Regions from separate parts of the Homo sapiens genome. Here region 1 is linked to region 2. Evidence: fine-mapped expression QTL. A gene starts in region 2. The other region holds a variant in brackets. All regions are shown on one strand. Distances are from middle to middle. Region 1 overlaps LINC01551 (long intergenic non-protein coding RNA 1551). Region 2 holds the start of LINC02281 (long intergenic non-protein coding RNA 2281).

The links. PIP is the estimated chance that this variant, and not a neighbour inherited with it, causes the effect.
Region 1: its variant is fine-mapped to the expression of LINC02281 in testis (GTEx, PIP 0.99).

What each region holds. Positions count from the first base shown.
Region 1 is chr14:28,787,677-28,798,351 of GRCh38, forward strand. LINC01551 (long intergenic non-protein coding RNA 1551) reads left to right here. Exons shown (of 3, transcript NR_026731.1): 3 at 4,204-7,118. Among named protein-coding and RNA genes, the nearest start is that of LINC02282, 7.2 kb to the left of the region's middle. The variant C/T (reference allele first, on the strand shown) is at 4,098.
Region 2 is chr14:28,825,295-28,835,969 of GRCh38, forward strand. LINC02281 (long intergenic non-protein coding RNA 2281) reads right to left here and starts at 4,859. Exons shown (of 4, transcript NR_187181.1): 1 at 4,780-4,859. It overlaps LINC02327 (long intergenic non-protein coding RNA 2327), which reads left to right and starts at 4,941. Exons shown (of 4, transcript NR_184199.1): 1 at 4,941-5,208; 2 at 6,712-6,766.

The DNA of each region.
Region 1 (10,675 bases), 38 kb before region 2:
TCAGTAAATAATTACCTCACAATAATTGCAGTCCTGTCATTCTTATAGTAGAATATGATATTGATAAGAAGTAAAGGAAGGAATAATTAGTAAAACTTTAGGAAATGAATTTGTCCTGTATATGTCACACGTGGAGATTGGAATATGCAAGTTGATTGTGTGTAAGAAGAATAAAGGGGGCATAAATAAAGATGAGAAAGACGTTTGATGAGATGGAGTTTGGTGGTAAATTGAAGGAAAACTTAAAGACCATTCAGAGGAGTTTCTATTTGATAGTAGAGGTAATAAAGACCCATGGTGGCCCTACGAGCAGAGGATGACATTACTAAAATTGAGTTTTATTTTAAAAATGATTCTAGGCTGGGCGCTGTGGCTCATGCCTGTAATCCCAGCAATTTGGGAGTCCGAGGTGGGCGGATCACCTAAGGTTAGGAGTTCGAGACCAGCCTGGCCAACATGGCGAAACCCTGTCTCTACTAAACATACAAAAATTAGCCAGGTGCGGTGGCATGAGCCTGTAATCCCAGCTACCCAGGAGGCTGAGGCAGGAGAATAGCTGGAACCGGGGAGGCAGCGGCTACCAGTGTATCTGAGATTGTGCCACTGACCTCCAGCCTGGGCGACAGAGCAAGACTGTCTCAATAAGATAAATAAATAAATAAATAAAGATTCTAGCCAGCAACTGAATATAGGGAAAATTGCAGGAGAAAAGATTAGTGCAGTTCTGGAATGTGGTACTGTTAGAGAATGGCTATAGTCAGAGCTATCATTACGTCCCTTCTCCTCAATTTTTATACAATTGAAATTGCATTGAAATGATGAAATCAGGAATGAATCTTGCATAGAACAAAAGCCAGAGTACCACTGGAATCAGTACTACCCCCTTATTCTTCATTATTGATAGTGACAGGGGATGTTAGACATTGAGAGAAGGCAACTAACCCCAAAATATTTTCATCACCAGTTAAGCTCTAGATATTTTTTTTTTTTTTTTGCATTTAGCATATCCACCCATTATGCAATTGCAGTGGTTCTCAACTGGGGTGATTTTTGTCCCTTTCCTCCCCTGGGAGACTTTTCACAATGTCTGGAGACATTTTTTAGTTACAGCACCTCTGGGGCCACTACTGACGTCTGGTAGATAGATGACCAGTGTATTGCTGAACATGTTAAATTCACAGGATGGACCCCCATAACCACAGACTACTATGTCCAAAATGTCAGTCATTCTGAGCTTGGAAAACCCTCAGTTATGGGAATGAAGCATGAGCTCCAACTCTGGAGAGCTGCACCATGAGTCCCAGGTCTTAACTTCTATTATGGCAACAATTTCAATCGAAGAAATGTTTTGCTTAGTGAGACAAATATAACTGAATATCCCAGTAACTTTGCCTACCCCTGAGGCCTTAGAGACAAGAAAATCAGAAGGGTACCTGCTTGGATTTTCTACTTTTTATAAAATAAAGTTAGAAATCTTCTTAAGGATTTGTCTTCATCTAAATGTTATTTATTAAATTAATAAAATGTGCCTTTGGAGTTGCTTAGCAACTTATGGAAAGCTTGCTTTTTAGAAGTTCATTTGTTTGTTTAAAACCTGGATAGGTTGCATATTATTAGCCACATTACATAAATCAACAAAGAAATGTACACTGAAAATGGAATAAGATGTTTCAACACATTTTCTTCTCTCCTGTCTGGCAATTAAAACACTCTAATTGTCTGGTAGAATTGCATCAAGTATTCGACAAACATTATTTATGTATGAAACTTCAACATAATATTGAGTATGTAAGAGAACCAAAGGGGAAAAATTAAACAGGTTTGTCATAAAGTATGTGTTTATCTTAACCTTTCTTCTTCAAAAACCTTATCTACTAAGTAGTTTTATCAGACACTAATTATACGCTTTCTGAATAGAATTTCTCCAACACCCTTCAGTGCCTGCACCCTTTAATCATATCTCATTACATCTACCTAATCCATATCTTTTTCGCATTGCCAGGGCTCATTAACAGTTTTAAAAGCCAATCTTGGACATTATCACTCCTTGTAATCGAAATGAAAATAATGCCAATAATGTTGTATTTCTAAAATAAAATGGATTATTTAAATTTTGTTCTGAAGCCATTTCTTCTTTAAATATTAATGAGAAATTAACTTTCAAACATGCATTAAGCTAGCAGGACTGGTAAGATGTGTCTGAAAACCCTGAAGCACCTTTTCAAAGAAGTTATTTTTATAAGCTGTTTTAACAGTGGATCATCAGTCACTTTGAAGGGAAGTGATCCTTGATTAACAGTTGGCTGATATTGTGTTTCCACAGATGTGTGGCAGCAATACAGGTGCTATGCATGAAATAGTACAGGTAATTCACAGGATAAATGCATTTTCTTTTTCTGATGGAAAAAGATGAAATGCTTCTTCGTCTTTATATACTGCCCCCATTTAATAGTTATTGACAAGACAAACCAAATGTGTCACTGAAATAATGAACTACAGGCACTGCGTTTCCCATAAATTTAAAGAAATCATTGTCAATTTGGCTAGTACTTTATTCCTTTTGATTTCCTGTTTTTAAAAAAGAAAACTCTTACAAATCTGCAGTTACATGACTAAAGTAGAGCATCATGATAATGACTTTTTGGGACTTGAAAGTCAAATCTTGTCTCTCAGAATATAATTACATAGGACTAACAAGTTATTCTCTAAAATGGAAGCTTCCTCCACCATTATAATCAAGCTTCAGATTCTTTCTTGAAAGTAATCAGGAAAAGTTTACTGGCCCATTATTTATTTATTTATTTATTATGCACATACTATTAAGTTACAGAGTTCAAAACAACCACTAACCAAAAGTCATTGTCCAAAAGTACAGTTTTTTGAGGTGGTGTGCACCTGTGATCCCAGCTACTGCAGAGGCTGAGGTAGGAGGATCACTTGAGCCCTGGAAGTCAAGGCTGCAATGAGCTATGATTGTGCCACTCCACTCCAGTCTAGGCAACAGAAAGAGATCCTGTCTCAAAAAAAAAAAAAAAAAAAGTACAGTTTTTAGACAAGTATCCCAAGCTATTGTTCATTAGTAGTGGAGACATAATAAAGTTTTCATTCTTCTTTGAGTTATTTTCCCACTCATTAGTTTAGCCAGATAGCAGTGATCTCTTATTTTAAGTGTTTTGTCAGCTGTTTCTTCCAGTTTTTCTTTGGAGTATATGTATTTTTTCTTTTAGAATTTTGTGTTTCTTCTGATTTCTCTCCATTAATATGGCTCATCTTGTTGCTGACTACAGAAACTTTTTAAGCAGAATCAAATGAAACCATATAGTTGCTGAGTTTGGTTTGTATTGTCATATCTTTTATAGTTGTACCATTGCTAATAATCAAATACAGTAATACAATTAGATGTGTAGAATCTGTAAGATTTTTTTTTTCCAAGACTTCCTTGGAATTTTCTCTTTTAAATTCCTTTTATTTATTTGTTTATTTTTTTTTTAGATGGAGTCTCGCTCTGTCACCCATGCTATTGTGCGGTGGCATGATCTTGGCTCACTGCAACCTCTACCTCCTGGGCTCAAGCGATTCTCCTGCCTCAGCCTCCCGAGTAGCTGCAATTACAGGCACCTGCCATCATGCCTGGCTACTGTGTGTGTGTGTGTGTGTGTGTGTGTGTGTGTGTGTGTGTGTTTGTGTATTTTTGTAGAGATGGTGTTTCACCATGTTGGCCAGGCTGGTCTCGAACTCCTGACCTCAGGTGATCCACCTGTCTCAGCCTCTCAAAGTACTGTGAGCCACTGCATCTGGCTCCTTTTATTTATTTAATCATATTTTTGTGTGTGTGTGGGATAACATTGCACCTGCTCGGTTATGCACAAGTAATTTACCTTTCTTTGCTTTACTGAAATAGCTTGAGTATTCAGACCTTACCAAATTTTTATGGTGACATGATAGACAATACTTATTTAAATAAAATTTCTTTCATTTTATTATCAATTAAATTAACTCTATAATAAAAAATAAAACTTGGTGAACTTAACAACATAGCAAATCACCATAACAATTTTAAAATTGCAAACGTGGTATTAATATACCTTAAAATTGTT[C/T]TTGCTTTGGTAATCAGGTTTTTATCTTTATTTCTCTTATTAAGAAATTTTGCCTTTTCTATACTGATAATCTTTTTCCTTGTCCTTTTCATGTTGTTATTTTCAGAGGTTTTTCATTAGTCAATACAGTGAAGGCTGGCATGATCATCAGCTTCCCATCCAATAATATCTACTCATCAGTGTGCTGTTGTCAATCAGAGATTTTCAAGTATGAGTTCTCCAACTCAAAGAAAAGTAGCTGGATCCAGGAAGAAAGGCATTTGGGGAAGAACAACGTTCTTTACAGTGCTCATGATGTGTCTCCAGAGAAAGTTACTTCAGCACTAAAAAAAACAAACAAACAAACAACAACAATAAACAACTTTCCTCTACAGTATCTTCCAGGGTCTAAACTATTAGACAGGTTCCTAAGTTTATCCAGATCTCTCCTATGTCTGAATTCTTGGTCATCTTCCTTGCCTCTGGCTCCACAGGTAAAGAAGAAATAATAATAAAGGAACAAAAATTATATGTTTCAGGCCGGGCGCGGTGGCTCACGCCTGTAATCCCAGCACTTTGGGAGGCCGAGGCGGGTGGATCATGAGGTCAGGAGATCGAGACCATCCTGGCTAACAAGGTGAAACCCCGTCTCTACTAAAAATACAAAAAATTAGCCGGGCGCGGTGGCGGGCGCCTGTAGTCCCAGCTACTCGGGAGGCTGAGGCAGGAGAATGGCGTGAACCCGGGAAGCGGAGCTTGCAGTGAGCCGAGATTGCGCCACTGCAGTCCGCAGTCCGGCCTGGGCGACAGAGCGAGACTCCGTCTCAAAAAAAAAAAAAAAAAAAATTATATGTTTCTGTCGGGCTGACTCATTCCACTTTTGAAGCACCCAGTGGATTAATTAGTCTTATTATTGCATTTACTGTCACCTACACATTTGTTTGTGGGAAGGCACTCCTCTTGGCATTTGCTTAGTTGGAAAAAGGAACACTAAGACTATAGCCACTGGATAATGTTCTTGAAGTTCACGGCACTGTGGCAGCATAAAGCTTGAACAGACCTAGTTTTTTTATTGATGGAGTGCAACTGATGTAGCACCACTTTTCTCTGACACTGTATATTAGCTTTTAGTTATGAACTACTTCCTTCCAGTGCAGCAGTTGTTGCCTACCATTGGTACCAGTTTGGCACCATTATAAAGAAACATTGTACCTCTTATAGGAAGAATTTGGAGAGTTTTGGTATGGTAATCAAGATGTGTATTGTAATAATTAACTGAATTCTGTGAACACACTGTTTCTACCTTAAGTGAAAGAAAAAGAGAACAGCTGCAATTATTTATCTTCACTCATTTCTCATAGATAGCCAGGATTTTTCAGTGTACATTCTCTTGTCCTGAAATTATTTTCAGTTCTTGTTGATTCTTATAGATTATAATGAGAAAGGCACGAGCAAGAAATTTGAAATAAAGAACACAAAATGAGATTGCCCTTTGGTTGTTAAAATTGCAGATTTAACAAAATAGATCAGCAAAATATGTGCAAAGTTATCTTAACAGATTAATTCCTATCCAGCAGGCTTTAACAAAAACTAATAGAAGCTATTACATATTTACAGAAAAAAAAATTTAGCCATGAAAGCTACTAAAGAAAAGCCAGAAACAGCGTAAGAATTCCCTACTCAAATATGATTCAGAGACGAGGGTGGGGACTTTATTCCACTGGACTTCAGTCCCAGTGACAAGGCCACTACTATTGTGAATTAATATCAGGCTAATTAAACTTGATGTTATTAAATGTTCTATCCATAAAATTTTTCATTCAGAATTCTTGTTTTTCAAACAACATTCTGGATTATTATTTAGCTGTCAAAGTAGCTGTGTTCTTAGAAAATACATCAGTCAGGGCTGGGTACAGTGGCTCATGTCTGTAATCCTAGTGCTTTGGGAGGCCAAGACAGGAGGATCACATGAGGCCAGGAGTTTGAGACCAACTAAGTCAACATGGTAGGACCCTGTCTCTATCCCCCTCTACCCCCCAAAAAATTAGTCAGACATGGTAGCACATGCTTGTAGTCCTAGCTACTTGGGAGGCTGAGGTGGGAGGATCTCTTGAGCCCAAGAGTTCAAGGTAGCAGTGAGCTGATTGCACTACTGCACTCTGGCTCATGCAAGATAGGAAGACCCTGTCTCAGAAAAGATTAAAAGAAAATAAACTAATCACACAAATTTCAAATATACTATTTATAATGGTAGAAACATTTTAGTGAGCAATGATCCTGGCCTTTAGTGAGGTTTTTCTCATAACAATTTGTCATAAATGAATAATTTCTGGGTAAAACATTATAATTTCATTTTTTCTTTATTTATTTATTTTTATTTTTATTTTTGAAACAGAATCTCATTTTGTTGTCCAGGCTGGAGTGTCCGCCTCCCAGGCTCCAGTGATCCTCCAGCCTCAGCCTCTTGAGTAGCTGGGACTACAGGCATGCTCCACCACGCTCGGCTAATTTTTGTATTTTTTGTTGAGAAGGGGTTGTGCCATGGTGTCCAGGCTTGACTTGAACTCCTGGGCTCAAACAATCAGCCTGCTTTGGCCTCCCAAAGTGCTAGAACTACAGGCATGAGCCATGGAGCCCAACCTGTGATTTCTTTGCTGTGTACCCCCATTTGATGGATAATTTTTTGGCATGTTGATAAACGTCAGGGTGTAAAGTATCCAGTATGAGGGGTAAAGCCAGGATTATAATAAATTTGTCAACTTCAGGTTTTCTTGCTAGCCTTTTCTGTGATATACAAAGTGCACATACAACTACATGGGTAGGAGAATTGTTGAAATAAGTTATCATTGTTCAAACAATAATTTGTTGGAACCAAATATCACCCACAATGCAATTGTCTACCTTTAAAGAATGGCCATAGAGTCAAAAACTTTCTTTTGAATCCTGGATTCACTATTTATTTGATGTGAGATCACCTTTACTTTTATACCATCAATTTCCTCAGTGTAAAGAGTGTATTATTAAAATTCCCTCGTACGGTCACTTCAAAATTAAAATAAATAATTCACATAAATGCTTAGCACTGTGCCCAGAGTATGGACATGAATGTAAAATAATGCCTCGACATTTTATCACTAAGAGTAATAATATTATTATCATAATAAGATGATGTTGATTCAGGATATGATTTGGGCAGCAAAATTTTCACAGGGACCAATTGCAGAATACTCGAGATCATATAGTTTCTAGAAATTATTTCCACTCTAATATTTAGATAGATTACGGTCCCGCCATTGCCGTCCTCTGAAGTATCAGATCTTATATTTATTTTTTGTAATTCTTTATCATTTATAATATTTGAGGAATAAATTAATGAATGAATAATCTTCTAGACTCTCCCAAATCTCTCTCAATGGCTTAATACTATCAAGACTTATTATTCCCTCATATCACATTCCAGTGCAAGTTGGGTGAAGAGTGGGGTGAATCTGTTTCATTGAGTCCCATTTAGTCATTCAGGAACCCTGGAAGTGACTCTGCCATTCTTTAGGGCTTTGGAGTCTTCCAAAGGATACACAACATTGGGTAAGGAGGGAAGAAAGCTTATTGGAGAGCCAGCAGGATAATTCCTTAATCCCATTAACTTGAAGTCAACCACATGGCCCAACCTAATTGCAGGGGAGGTGTGGGAATATAATTTAGCTGTGTATTTTGGAGGAAAAAGAAATGGGCTGGCACAGTAGCTCACGCCTGTAATCCCAGCACTTTGAGAGGCAAAGATGGGAGGATACCTTGCATCCAAGAGTTTGAAACCAGCCTGAGCAACATAGTGGGACCATGTGTCTACAAAAAATAAAAATTAAAAAACTAGCCAGACGTGGTGACATGCGCCTGTAGACCCAACTACTCAGGAGGTTGAGGCGAGAAAATTGCTTGAGCACGGGAGGTTAAGGCTGCAGTGAGCCATGATGGTGCCACTGCACTTCAGCCTGGGTGACAGAGTGAGATCCTATCTGAAGGAAAAAAAAAATGGGTTTGCTGACCACACAGCATTACTTCTGCCCTACTAATTAACCAAACACTGCCACTAACAAAATTAGTTTTACGATTCTTCTATAAATTTTCAGTTACCTAAAGATGGTGAGGAACTCTTGCCTAGGAAATTAATTTGCACATAGTTTTATAGAACAATATATCTTATATTAGAAAGTCTTTGTCAACAAGGATTGGAAAGTATCACCTTTTGATAAGTCTTTGTTCTATAGGAATTCTCTGGATAACTTTTTGTGAAGCATTTATCCTACCTCATTTCTACTTAAAGCTCGTATATATGACAGAGATTATATCCTTAAATGAGCATTTCCTTGCTTTTATCATCTTGTGTCATTATCCCAACATTCTTTTATTATAGTTGTTATTGAGAGCATACTTTCAGATTTAGCATAGAGATTAACTGTGAAATAAGTAAATAGTGAATTGTTTAGTTGGAATGAAGTATAAAAGTCAATGCTTTTAAGAGGTTTTTTTTCAATTTTAACTGCTATTTCTAAGTGACTACAATACTCGAAAAGAAGTGGATTGACAATCTTAGATTTAAGATTTTTTTCTATGAAGAATTGCTGTGACGTTAAACTTTACAAACAATGTAAAACTTTACTATGATTCTCCAAAATATGCTTTTTCAAAAGTTCCACTTTACTGATGAGAGTTCCCTATATTAAAACCCTTTCAGCTCATGAATTCTTGGGGTCTTTCCAAATGAAAGACTTTTAATGTTTCCATGACAGTGTTTACTCATTATGGTTAAGGAAAGAGATTCATATTGCCTGCTTATTTGACACTTTGCCTAATAAATTCCAAATAATAACAAATAGCACTCTAAACAATTTACTTATTAATACCAATAATCTGTTGGAGACTCGTTGTGTATATTTAATGGTTTCCTTTCCACTGAGAGTATTTTCAACTATATTGATACTACTTTGTAAGAAATCACTATTTTAATTATTTTCTCATAATTAATATGCATATATGAAACTGGCATTATATTTTGATATTTTTAATAGAGATTAAAATATCCCTTATTATCCATATTTAATAAAAGACATGTTTGTGATACATATTTAGATACAGTTTTAAATGGCCATTTTAGTTATTAAGTGAAGTTAAAGACTTTTTTTTCAACTTTTATTTTCGGTACAGGGTACATGTGCAGGCTTGTTACATGAATACATTGCCTCCAGTCAGTGAGCATTGTACCCAATAGGTAGTTTTTCCATCCACACTCCCATCTCGACCTCCCCACTCTGGTAGTCTGCAGTGTCTATTGTTCCCATATGTGTTCAATGTTTAGCTCCCACATAGAAGTGAGTACGTGAGGTATTTGGTTTTCTATCACTGCATTAATTTGTTTGGGATTATGGCCTCCTGAAATAAAAGAAACAAAAGATTGACATTCTTTAGATGATTATACATTCATGTACATACTTCTGCTTCTAGTGATTATAGCACTATTAATTCTTATATAAAATATTTGTTTTTTTCCAACTGCTTTTTAGTGCATGCATTTTATAATTTTTCATATAATTACCTGTTTGCAAATTAAAGGAGGCTAGAGAGTTCATTGTAACATCATAATTTTGTTTTTTATGCCAGCCTAACCAACTTTAGCCTTTATTAAATAAATAAAAGTTGAAAATGAATGTTCATAAATACATTAGTTATTTAATTAGAAATGCATATTTTTAATTGAACAATTCTGTGAGAGAAAATGTTTGCAAATATACATTAAATAGTAAAAAATGGCATTTTACTATTTTGTTAAGTAGAAATATATTAAGTATGTAGCCACATAAGAACTGGGATAAGGCCAGATGCGGTGGTGTGTGCCTGTAATCCCAGCACTTTGGGAGGCCGAAGTGGACGGATCACAAGGTCAGGAAATCGAGACCATCCTGGCTAACATGGTGAAACCCCGTCTCAACTAAAAATACACACACACAAAATTAGCTGGGCAAGGTGGTGCACACCTGTAGCCCCAGCTACGCGGGAGGCTGAGACAGGAGAATTGCTTGAACCCAGGAGGTGGAGGTTGCAGTGAGCCAAGATCATGCCATTGCACTCCAGTCTGGGTGACACAGTGGGACTCCATCTCAAATAAATAAATAAATAAAATAAAATAAAAAATAAAAAGAACTGGGATGAAATATTTTTGGCCTTATGTATTATAAGCTCAGTGATCTTGCATTAGCTATCTTTGTATATAGCTTTTTGTTGACTATATTGTTTGTATTATACAAGTTATTTTCTTGATATTTAAGAATAGCAGTTGATTGATGAAGATGTGGTAGCATTTACTGAGAAAACAATTTGAGTTATTTTACCCTTTACACAACCATCGTAAAATTTTCATTTTCATCTACTCTAGCGAATGTGAGCCTGTTAAAGAATTTTAAAGTTTTCAGTCTACTTGGACATACAAGTTATTGAATATTCATATACAAAATTATTACCTTGAGTGCTGCATGTTCTGTATGAGATTTTATATCATGTGTTAAGTATTAAAAGGGTTTAAGTGCTCTAGACTTTAAACTACTTTA
Region 2 (10,675 bases):
GTTCTTGACATCACTTTTTAAGCACTATCCCCCTGACTCAACAAGATCATCCAGACTCATGTTGAACTTCCCCTGACCTTCCCCTGGTATCTTTAGTGGAAAATAGCATTTAGAAAACAAGATCTGAGCAGAAATTATGTTCATTGTTGGTGTGTTATTACTTCTTGACCTCTCCAACAAACAGAGCTATGATATTTATATGCATGTGTGTATGTATATATCTAAGTAAAGTAAAAGTTCATATTAATACTTTCACTTGCAAACCAAACCTACAAGATTTTTCTATATTTCTATCTCCCTGCCTCCACAGTGGAAACCCTCACTTGCAATAACATCAGCTCATTTGTTCAATCATCTGTACTACAACAAACCTACTAATAAGAGTTCAAGATTTCTTAACAGTTCTGTTTTTTTTTAACCTGGATTGAGAGTGTATAATCAAAATACTTGTGATCAAAAGTTACTTGTATTAGTTCTTTTATTTTTTCTTTTCAGTGTATTTAGTATTTTTTATTTGGAATTACAGTTGGGTTCATTTGTTTTTGTTTGCATTAGTTTTAGATCTTTTCCCCATTCTTGTTAAATATTGATTTAGTTTAAGTTTTTGAACATGAAGAATACTTCCAAAATGAAAATTATTCAAAAAGACATAGTCAGAACAGTGTTACTTCCTTTCATATCCCTTCCATCTGCTTCTTTACACAACTAAACACAACAGATTTTAATGTTTTCTTTATATTATACTTACGCTGTTCAAACTTTATCTTATACTTACTCTATATGGTTTCTTTGACATGACTGAACCCTGACTGATACACTTTTATCACAGAGTATCTTCAAATAATATTATACCATTTCCATCCCACCCTTTTTTTGTGCCATTTTTGTCTCACATTTTATTTCTACATAAAATTTCAATCAATTTTGTTTCTATATTTGCCTTACATACTCAACTTTAAAGAAATTAAAGAAATCTTTAAAAAGAAAAGTATATTCATCAAAATATTTACCCTTTCAAGTACTCACCATTCTTTTATATAGGTACAAGTTTCCATTTGGTATATATATATATATATATATATATATATATATATATATATATATATGATATAGATATAGATATGTGTGTGTATATATATATATTTAGCTCCCTGAAATCTTTTATTAACTTAAAAAATATATAGATTAACTCTTTGCCTGAAGAAATGTCCATTTTCCCTTTAGTTTTGAAGGATTTTTTTTCTGGGGATATAGAATTATAGCTTGAAATGATTGTTTTTTCTTTCAGCACTTTAAAATGTTTCGCTGTCTTCTGATTTCAATAGTTTCTGACTGGAAGTGTGCATTCATGTTTGTCTTTGTTCTTTTGTATGCAATATGTCTATTTTCCTCTGGGTGCTTTTAAGATTTTCTTTTTATTACTGGTTTTAACAACTCCCTCCTGTTGTACTTTGGTATGTTTTTCTTTGTGTTTATCTTACTGGAGTTTATTAATTTTGTTCCTGAAGATTTCTTATTTTTATTAAATTTGTAAATATTTTGGCTATTATTACTTCCAATATTTTTTCTGACCCTCAGTGTCTCACCTGTTCCATGAATTCCAATTATACTAATGTTACAGCAGTTAATATCGTTTTCCAAGTTACTGGGACTTCATTACTTATTCTTTTTTAGACTTTTTTCTTTCTGATCTGTATTTAGGATAGTTTCTACCACTGTCTTCAAGTTCATTGATATTTTTCCTATCATGCCTAATCTACTGTTAATTTCATCCAGTGAATTTATTCTTTAATACATTTATTTCTCTAGAAGTTTGACACTTTTTGTCCTACATTCTATGTGTTCCTTCATTATGTTCATGTTACTCTTTACATGCTTGAGCCGTGTTTTGGTAGGTTTTTAAATGTTGGTGTCTGCTAATTTCCTCATTTCTGTCATTTGTGATCTATTTGTAGTGACTGGTTTTTCTCCTAGATGTGGATTTAATTTTCCTGCTTTTCCATGTATATAACAGTATTTGATTGAGTGCTGGACATTATGAATTTCATGCTGTTGAGTGTCATATTTTTTGTCTTCCTTCAAAATATGTTGCTCTTTGTTCTGGCAGGCAGTTAAGTTTCTTGCAGTCCAGTTTTGTCCATTCTAGCCCTTCTTTAAGGCTTTAGTAGGGTGAATTTAGAACAATCTTTACTGTATGCCTACTATAGCCCTCTTGGTATTTTTACAGAAAGTTCTGAGTATTCAGTGAATAATGTATACTCTGGCTTCTGAGAACTTGAACTTTTCCCAGAGCTGCGTAAGAGCTGGAAATTGTTTGACACACAGCTTCCTTTTTGCTTTTTGCCTTGGCCTATATACGCATGACTTAGTGTTCAGCAACTGACTCTGAGATGATTGTAAAGATTTCCTGATTTACTTATTTATATGTTCTCTCCTTTCCTGTTGTCTTCCATTCAGAATTTCAGGCTCAAAAACTCTAAGCACTCTGATCTCTGTCTACACAACTCAGTGTAACCACCTAGCTCTGCTTGGAATCTACCTCCTGACAATGTGGTTCAGAAAGTTCTTCGGTGGAGAAATCCAGTTTGATTACAAGACTCACCTAAATTTTTTTTCTTCTCTTACTGACTATAATCATATAATATGTGTTGTAGGATGTCTGCAAACTCTTTATTTGCATTATTTTTTCTATTTTTCTAGTTGGTTATAGTGCACAATTAAGTCTTGCTCCATTCACCCTATCATGACAGAAGCATAAACCCCATGTACTGTACTGAATTCTGTCATAATCAGTGACAGCTTTTTTTCTTCTAATTCTTTTCCAAATCCTGCCAGTTTGCAATTTATTTTCTTTTATTGTTTTGCTGTCTATTCTTTGAGTTCTGTCTTTCTGCTTTGTGTCTTCCTTCATAGTGGAGTTTGCTTTATAAAATATTTTAAAATGCTTGCTAAAATATTTGCTATGATTTTACTTGCTGTTTCATGCTTTCCTGTTAAGTATTCTTCTCTTTTGTTGCCTGTACTTTACTTTCTTCCTCCTTTAATGTCTTCCTATTTTTCAGTATCTATTGTTGAATTATTTTGTATTTCTTAATATGTGCAAGAGATTTTTGTGCTGGAGAACAATAGGAATTGATATGTAATTTTTCTGGCTTTCACAACAAAAAGTCTCCTTTCTACTCAAATACCACAGAAAAACGCCTTTAGAACATGTGCAGTGTCTGTGTCATTATTTGTATATTATTGCTTCCTCTATTCTTGGAACCAGACTGGGTCCAGTAATGCTATTGCTGCCAGTCTATCTTACTCCAGTTCATGCACCCATAGCAGAAATAAGATGATAGATTTTTGCATTTCTGGGCTTATCCCTCCTCTTCAGGAAGTATATCTTTTGCCAGAAAATTTTGAGATTTGATATTATAAGGCTCCCTCTTTGCTTATATTCCTCTCTACGGTTTTTAATTTTTGTTTTATCCCATATAGCTTTTGTGATCTCTTTCATCAATTTGGAAGCTATGATTATAAATGTCTTCCAATTTGCCAAAAATTGGAGTTCCGCATGATTATTAAAAATTTTTTCTATTTTCAATTATTTTTGAGAAAAGAAATGCAGAATCCTGATTTCTGCAGCTATATTCATACCAGAAGTATCATTCTTTTGTTGATTCTTTAATGCCTTTAGAGTGTCATGCTTTAATGCCTTTATACAGTTACAAGTTAGAGAATTTTTACCTCCATGGAACTTATAACTTGAATGTACTGTAGGTACTGGATGATCAGTGCTGTGAGATTAAAACTATAGATTCAAATATCTCAGATAGAGATTTGTAATCATTTGCATAATCAGGATGAGTACATTGTCAAAAATGAGGGAGAATGTTAAGGATACTGGTTAAAGAGGAAGCAGAAGTGTCAGAGTTGAGTGACTGCTTAGAAACTGAGAAGCATGCAGAAACCAGTTATTCAGATGGAGCAATTAATCCAGGGCAGGTAAGAGGCAGAGACACTGTGCTAAAGATGAGAGAATCTTGGCCCAGCGCGGTGGCTCACGCCTGTTATCCCAGCACTTTGGGAGGCCGAGGTGGGCATATAACCTGAGGTCAGGAGTTGGAGACCAGACATGACCAACATGCAGAAACCCCGTCTCCACTAAAAATACAAAATTAGCCGGGCGTGGTGGCGCATGCCTGTAATCCCAGTTACTTGGGAGGCTGTGGCAGGAGAACCGCTTGAAGCCGGGAGGTGGAGGTTGCAGTGAGCCGAAATCGCGCCACTGCACTCCAACCTGGGCAACAAGAGCGAAACTCGGGAAAAAAAAAAAAAAAAGACAGGAGAATCTTAAAACCAAGAGAAAGCCTGCTCTCTCTCTCTCTATACATATATATATATATATATATATATATATATATATATATATACATATTTTTCTTCTTTGAAACGGAGTCTCGCTGTGTCGCTAGGCTGGAGTGCAGTGGCATGATCTCATCTCACTGCAACCTCCAACTGCTGCCCGGTTCAAGCGATTCTCCTGCTTCAGCCTCCCGAGTAGCTGGGACTATAGGCCCGGCCACCACAACCAGCTAATTTTTTTTTTTTTTTTTTTTTTTTTTTTAGTAGAGACGGGGTTTCACCATGTTAGTCAGGATGGTCTCTATCTCCTGACCTCGCGATCCGCCCGCTTCGGCCTCCCAAAGTGCTGGGATTACAGGTGTGAGCCACTGTGCCCGGCTGAAAGCCTGATATATCTTTCTACCATAGCAAGAACTAGCAGCACCTTACCCAGTATGAGACCGACCCAGGTCTGCCTTAATATATATACCGTAATATATACCTAACAGTTTTTTTTTTTTTTTTGAGAGGGAGTCTCGCTCTGTCGCCCAGGCTGGAGTGCAGTATCGCGATATCGGTTCGCTGCAAGCTCCGCCTCCCGGGGTCACGTCATTCTCCTGCCTCAGCTTCCGGAGCAGCTGGGACTGCTGGCGCCCGCCACTACGCTCGGCTAATTTTTTTGTGTTTTTAGTAGAGACGGGCTTTCACCGTGTTGGCCTAGCGGTTCTCCAACTCCTGACCTCATGATCCCCCCGCCTCAGCCTCCCAAAGTGCTGGGATTACAAGCGTGAGCCACCGCGACCCGCCAACACTCTTGACAACAGTGCTGTGCTAAGAACTTGGGGGACTTCAAAAAGTTCACCAGTTCCTGTGTCCATGGTAGGTAAACATTTTTAAAAGTACCTTTTTATTTATCTTTTCATATATTTATTTCGCTCTATCGTAACAATAAGCTGTATACTTCATATGTACAAGTCAGTTGCCTTTTGGTCTGATTTTCAGACTAATAGAGTCATATCAGATTCTTACCTTATGATATTGCTCAGGAAGATTAGCTGAAGTTCAAGGCAAGAGCAACTTAAGTAGGACAGATCTTTGAAAGATTTTTCAAAATCCGTAGGAACAATAACTCAAGTAAGGTAAATCTCTATAAAATTCTAGAAGATGTGTGTCTATAATTTAGGAGGCCAAAGACATTTTTAAGAGAAGGAAATAAAACTCTGTAGCTTGAAGTTTGGAAGCCTCAGGAAAAAAGCCTATAATTTCAATGGGATTTCTTAATAATAGTATTTTAGAGAACAAGTTTACAGCTACCTTTAGACAACATGAAAGAAGCTCACAAGTAATCTCCCAGGAGATGACATTGAATAGATTGGGACACCAAGGAAGATACTTAACTTTAACGAGTTTAAGTATCATACATATTTACTTTTAAGGTGTTCATTTCTTTAAAACAATGTGATGAAAATATAACATAATAGGAATGTATGTCCTATTTTAGAAGTAGGGCAAAGCAGGCTGTTTAATACAAAATTGTGAGTGAGATAATTTGAAGCTAAGAAAACATAAATACAGTATGAGCCCACATACCATGAAAAGGTAACAAATAGGGAAGGGAAACAGCGGGGAAAACCCCAGAGCATTTAATCTTATTTTATGGTGGCATTCATGTACTGAAAAGAGTGAAAGAACAGCCCCCACACTTCCAGAAATGAGTCAGTTTCATGTCTCAAGCTGATTATAAACCATTCAAGGGCGGCAGCCTCCCACAGCTGACTTTAACTGTGATTAGAATAGAGGATGGTCGTTAGTTTGGGCATGCCATATGTGCCCTGAAGTCTCAAAGCCTGATCATCAGGTAAACTTGAAGTTTCTCTAGGACCAGCTTACAAATAACTTCATATATGTATCCTGAAAAAGACAGCTCATCAACAGGCCGGTCACATATGCTTAAACCATACTCCAAACCATTTGGCATGCACTAGAGCAATTTTACAAGTTTAGAAACTCCATCTTAATTTTAAACCACTTCAGTTCTCCAATCCTTTTCCCATCACAAAGAAAAGTATTCCATCTGATGAACGTAGGTCATACTGTTTCGTACAAATCCCCAGATTCTTGTGAGAATCAGAATTTTTATCAAACAGTATGGATTCAGGACCGCTTATGGTCTGAAAGAGGAAAAAAAAGTCCTAGTTAACGTTATTGTCTTTGATTACAAAGCCCCGAGTGGAGGTGCTTGTAAAAATCATTTTTTCTTATTTTTTTCTTCTTTAATAACACAAGGGATTTAATACTTAGAGAAATCCTTTTAATCCTTTCATTTGAACAGAAGTTTATTTATAATACCTATAATAAAGCATTTAAAATTTCTGTTTGCAGGGTGAAAAGATTTTCTACATCTTTCCTTGACTAGAAACAGAAGTCCTGAAACAAGGTATTCCCAGTCATGTTGCGCATTTTCAAGTATTTAGATGCAGCTATGAAATAACTTTTTAAATTCTGTGGTGAAGTTTGATTAAAATAATTATGATAGTATCAGAACCACAAGATAGTAAGTGTGTTCTCTCTTAGCTGGCAGACAATTAAAAACTATATACGGGATGTTTTTATATTAGGTATATCCCAGTATATACAACAGATTACTAAAATTATAAATTGTAGATTTGAAACATTGCAGACTGTGATTAAAGAAAAAAACTTCCTCTTCACAAAGTTATCATCTTATTTAAAACAAAATGTGGAAACATTTCCCAGTATAATTTATGACTACTTCATATTAACAAACAAATACACTTACTTATTTGTGGAATATTCATTGAAAAAATGGAATGTTGAATTTAAGATAAATAGAAGTTAGTATTTTAAATAATTATCTTTTTCCTGAGCTCAATTTAACCTGTTAAACCTCATTTAAAATTGATACATTTAAAATAATTCTAATGGAGGATTTGGAAAGAAAAATCCTTTCCCTCCCACACTTACAGAAGTGCAAACCAAATTAAAAGAGCATGTAACCCAAAGTTGCATAGTGATATATTCAAAAGGAAATTTCAAAATTTGAAGATGTGGATCATAATACAGGAGTTATATGTGTTCATTTTTCACAGTATGTCCTTAGCTTTGCTCTCAGATAGACAGATTTTAAAAGTAAGCTGAATTATTAAGGCTCCAGGATGCTTCCCACTCCTACCTCCACTATCATGACAATAATGAAATCTACTCCAATACAAATTCGCATTCCATTTTCTTTTAGGATGTTTATGGCAAAATTAAATTTTAACTTACTTTTCATGTGAAGTAAAAAGTAAGAATGGTCACTATGCCACTTCATTTTTCTTCCAAAGAAAAACAAATACAGCACATAATTAATCCAGGACAAGTAATCCAGGATTAACATAAGTGGCACTACACATTTCTGAAATGTCCTCCAAACTAAAGGTTTATAATGAGTGAGACAAGAAATTATAATTCACTCTATCAAAAATCTGAAGAGGGAGGGAATATTTTTGCTATGCACAAGCTGAATCAAGTTAATGAGGCATCTAACATTGCAAAAAGAACGTTGTCTATAAATAAATTCAGTCTGATTGGGATGTATTAGTTGTCTGATAATATTCTGTAGCCTACAGATGCTTTGGGTGGAATGTAGATTTCTTAAAAGAGAAAGGCCAATGGAATTACTTCAGCAAAGCTCCAGGTCATTTTCTTTAAATGGCATTAAAAGAAAATGTCCCTTTAAAATATTTTGCAATCACAACAATATTTTCAAAGTAATACATTTAGCATAAGACAAAATATGCTCATCAGCTGAAATCCACCGGAACTTTAGAATTTGGAAAAAATATCTTCTCACTCACTCATATTTTTTTTCCATTGAAATCTGTGTCTTAAGGTACTACTCATGGGCAACATACCTAAACTCTAGAGAATAGGAAGAACATGCACTTAGAATCTCTGCTGTTGCTCAGCCTAGACCTAAACCTAGTACATGTACTTATGCTTATTGTTTATGGGAGGGCTAGACTTTTATTAATGAGTACAAGTTATTTCTGACTAGTTACCAGATGTTCCTACAGAGTGGTGAGAATATAATTGTTCCAATCAAATTTAAAGTTCAGGTTAATGGAACTTGTTTTTTTAATAGGATTGTAGAATCTAGAAGTGGAATACATTTTATATTGTCTATTCTGTTACCTCCTCCTTAGAGAACTCTTAATTTGCTCATTTACTCAAATTTATAATAGCTCTAAAGATATGTCTCCTTTAAATCATTTTCCATATATTCAGCATAAAATTACTTTCATCATTTTTATCCCTCTGAAATTAGTTTTAAATGTAAACTGTATGAATCTTTACTGACAAAAGCTCCAAGAGTAGAGAAAGGTATGAAGTGAAATTAGAAGTACTCCCTTTTCTACACACCTAACCCATCTCCTAAAATTTTCAACTATTAACATTTTCTTGTGTATTATGTCAGAAATATTTTCAGGATTCTGTGAATTCTCAAGGAGCTTATTCTCATGATCATTTCCTCACATCCTGTTTTCCCTAAATTAGTTTCCATGCCTCATTTTCCCAGGCTTCCCTGTGTTTTAGAATGAGTCATTGTAGGTAAAGGTTGGCTGGTTATGTCTCTGCCTACATGAAATCGGGGGACGTATGTATCAACTCTTGGAATTCTCCCTTAATTTTACCGACAGATTTTACAGGTTTTTGACTTGCAGTTCTGGGAGTTTTATGGACTTTATAGATGATATTGTTTTTCTATCATTTTATTATTTTTGTTTGTTTTATATTAGTGTCAGACTGGGGAGTAGAATAATATCTTCATATTGACATCTTACACTTAATAATTACCTTTATTCTCTTAGATAAAAGTTTGCTAAATTACACATTTTTGTTGTTCAGAAGTTCTCTCTGGCCACACTCAATTCACCTACTCTTTTCTGTCTTCAGATTCTTTGCAAATAGAATCCCGGATCTTAGGGTTGAAAGATGTTTTTAAAGTATATAATCCAGCTTTCAACTGATGAAGAAATCCTTCCTGTGATATTCTCCATAACTGTTTTCTATTCTCTGTTGGACAACATCAAGTGATGAGAAATGCACTACTTCATGACATGTGCATTTTATTGTCGGCTTCTCAATAACTACCTCTTATTGCTCCTAGGTACACCTTCTTGAGGCTTACTTGGTGAGTCTAATTTGTCTTCTGGCACCACTGTGAATTTGAAGGCTTACGTCTTCTTCCCTGATCATATGTTTTCTACATGTCAGGGTAAAACATTTCTATTTCTTTTAAACATTTGTCAAATGTAATAGCTGTCTATCCCTTCATGATTTCAATTCATTCAACAAATCCTTCATTGAGTAGCTACTGTTTGAATGGTCTATGCTAGGTGTTAGGTCTATAATGACTATATAGACTAAAAACCCATCTTGGTCACTAACAGTTTCCACCTTCCGGTCTAATGCAAGGGGCTCAGCAGAGTGTAAAGCAGCATAACATGTTTATTTAAATATTATGAGAATAAATAGGATTGCGGCCAAATACATTTATTGTCAGACTGACTATTTCAATGGCTTCTGTTTCTATTTAGAACAAAAATCCAAATTTCTTTTGATGATCTATTAATTCCTGTTTGATATGGCCTTTGCCACCTTCTACAACCTCATCTCTTACTGTTCTTATGCCCCTACTACACTTTGGGACTATTAGCCTTCTGTAAATTCTTCTAACAAGCCAGCTTTTTCTTGACTTGAGGCCTTTGCATGTGCTCTTTCTTTTGCCTAGAACACCTTGAATTTGCTGAGGGTTTAATGCATATTTGTTGAATGAAGGAAAGAATCAATCAATTTAAACATAATTTCCTCCCTTTAAATCCAGAACTTCGCAGAACTTTTAGTATGTAACTAGACAAGCTAAATTTCTAAGAGAATGATACAGTATGTAATGACTCCCAGATTTATTTAACCATAGTTTTTTTCATGCAAATCTCTAAGGACAAATTTATCATGTACAGACTTTAGGAATTATGGCAGAGCAAAAATCACATTTGAATCCTGGCTGCCACCAACTAATTGATGTAATCTTGGGCAAGACACTTAATCTCTCACAATCTCATGTTTGTGCCTCTGACAGAGATCAGCAGAATCTACTTTTATTTTTCCAGGTTTCTGGAAAAAATAATAAAATAAGTGCCAGATAGAAATTAAAACATTTTATTTCTAATGAATGTCAGTGGGAGGACAGAGCTTAGTGTGAAAGATAAATGAACCTGCAAACTGGACCCCAGAGACAGGTATTGATGGACTATTTCAGGCTGTGCACAGTTTTTTCATT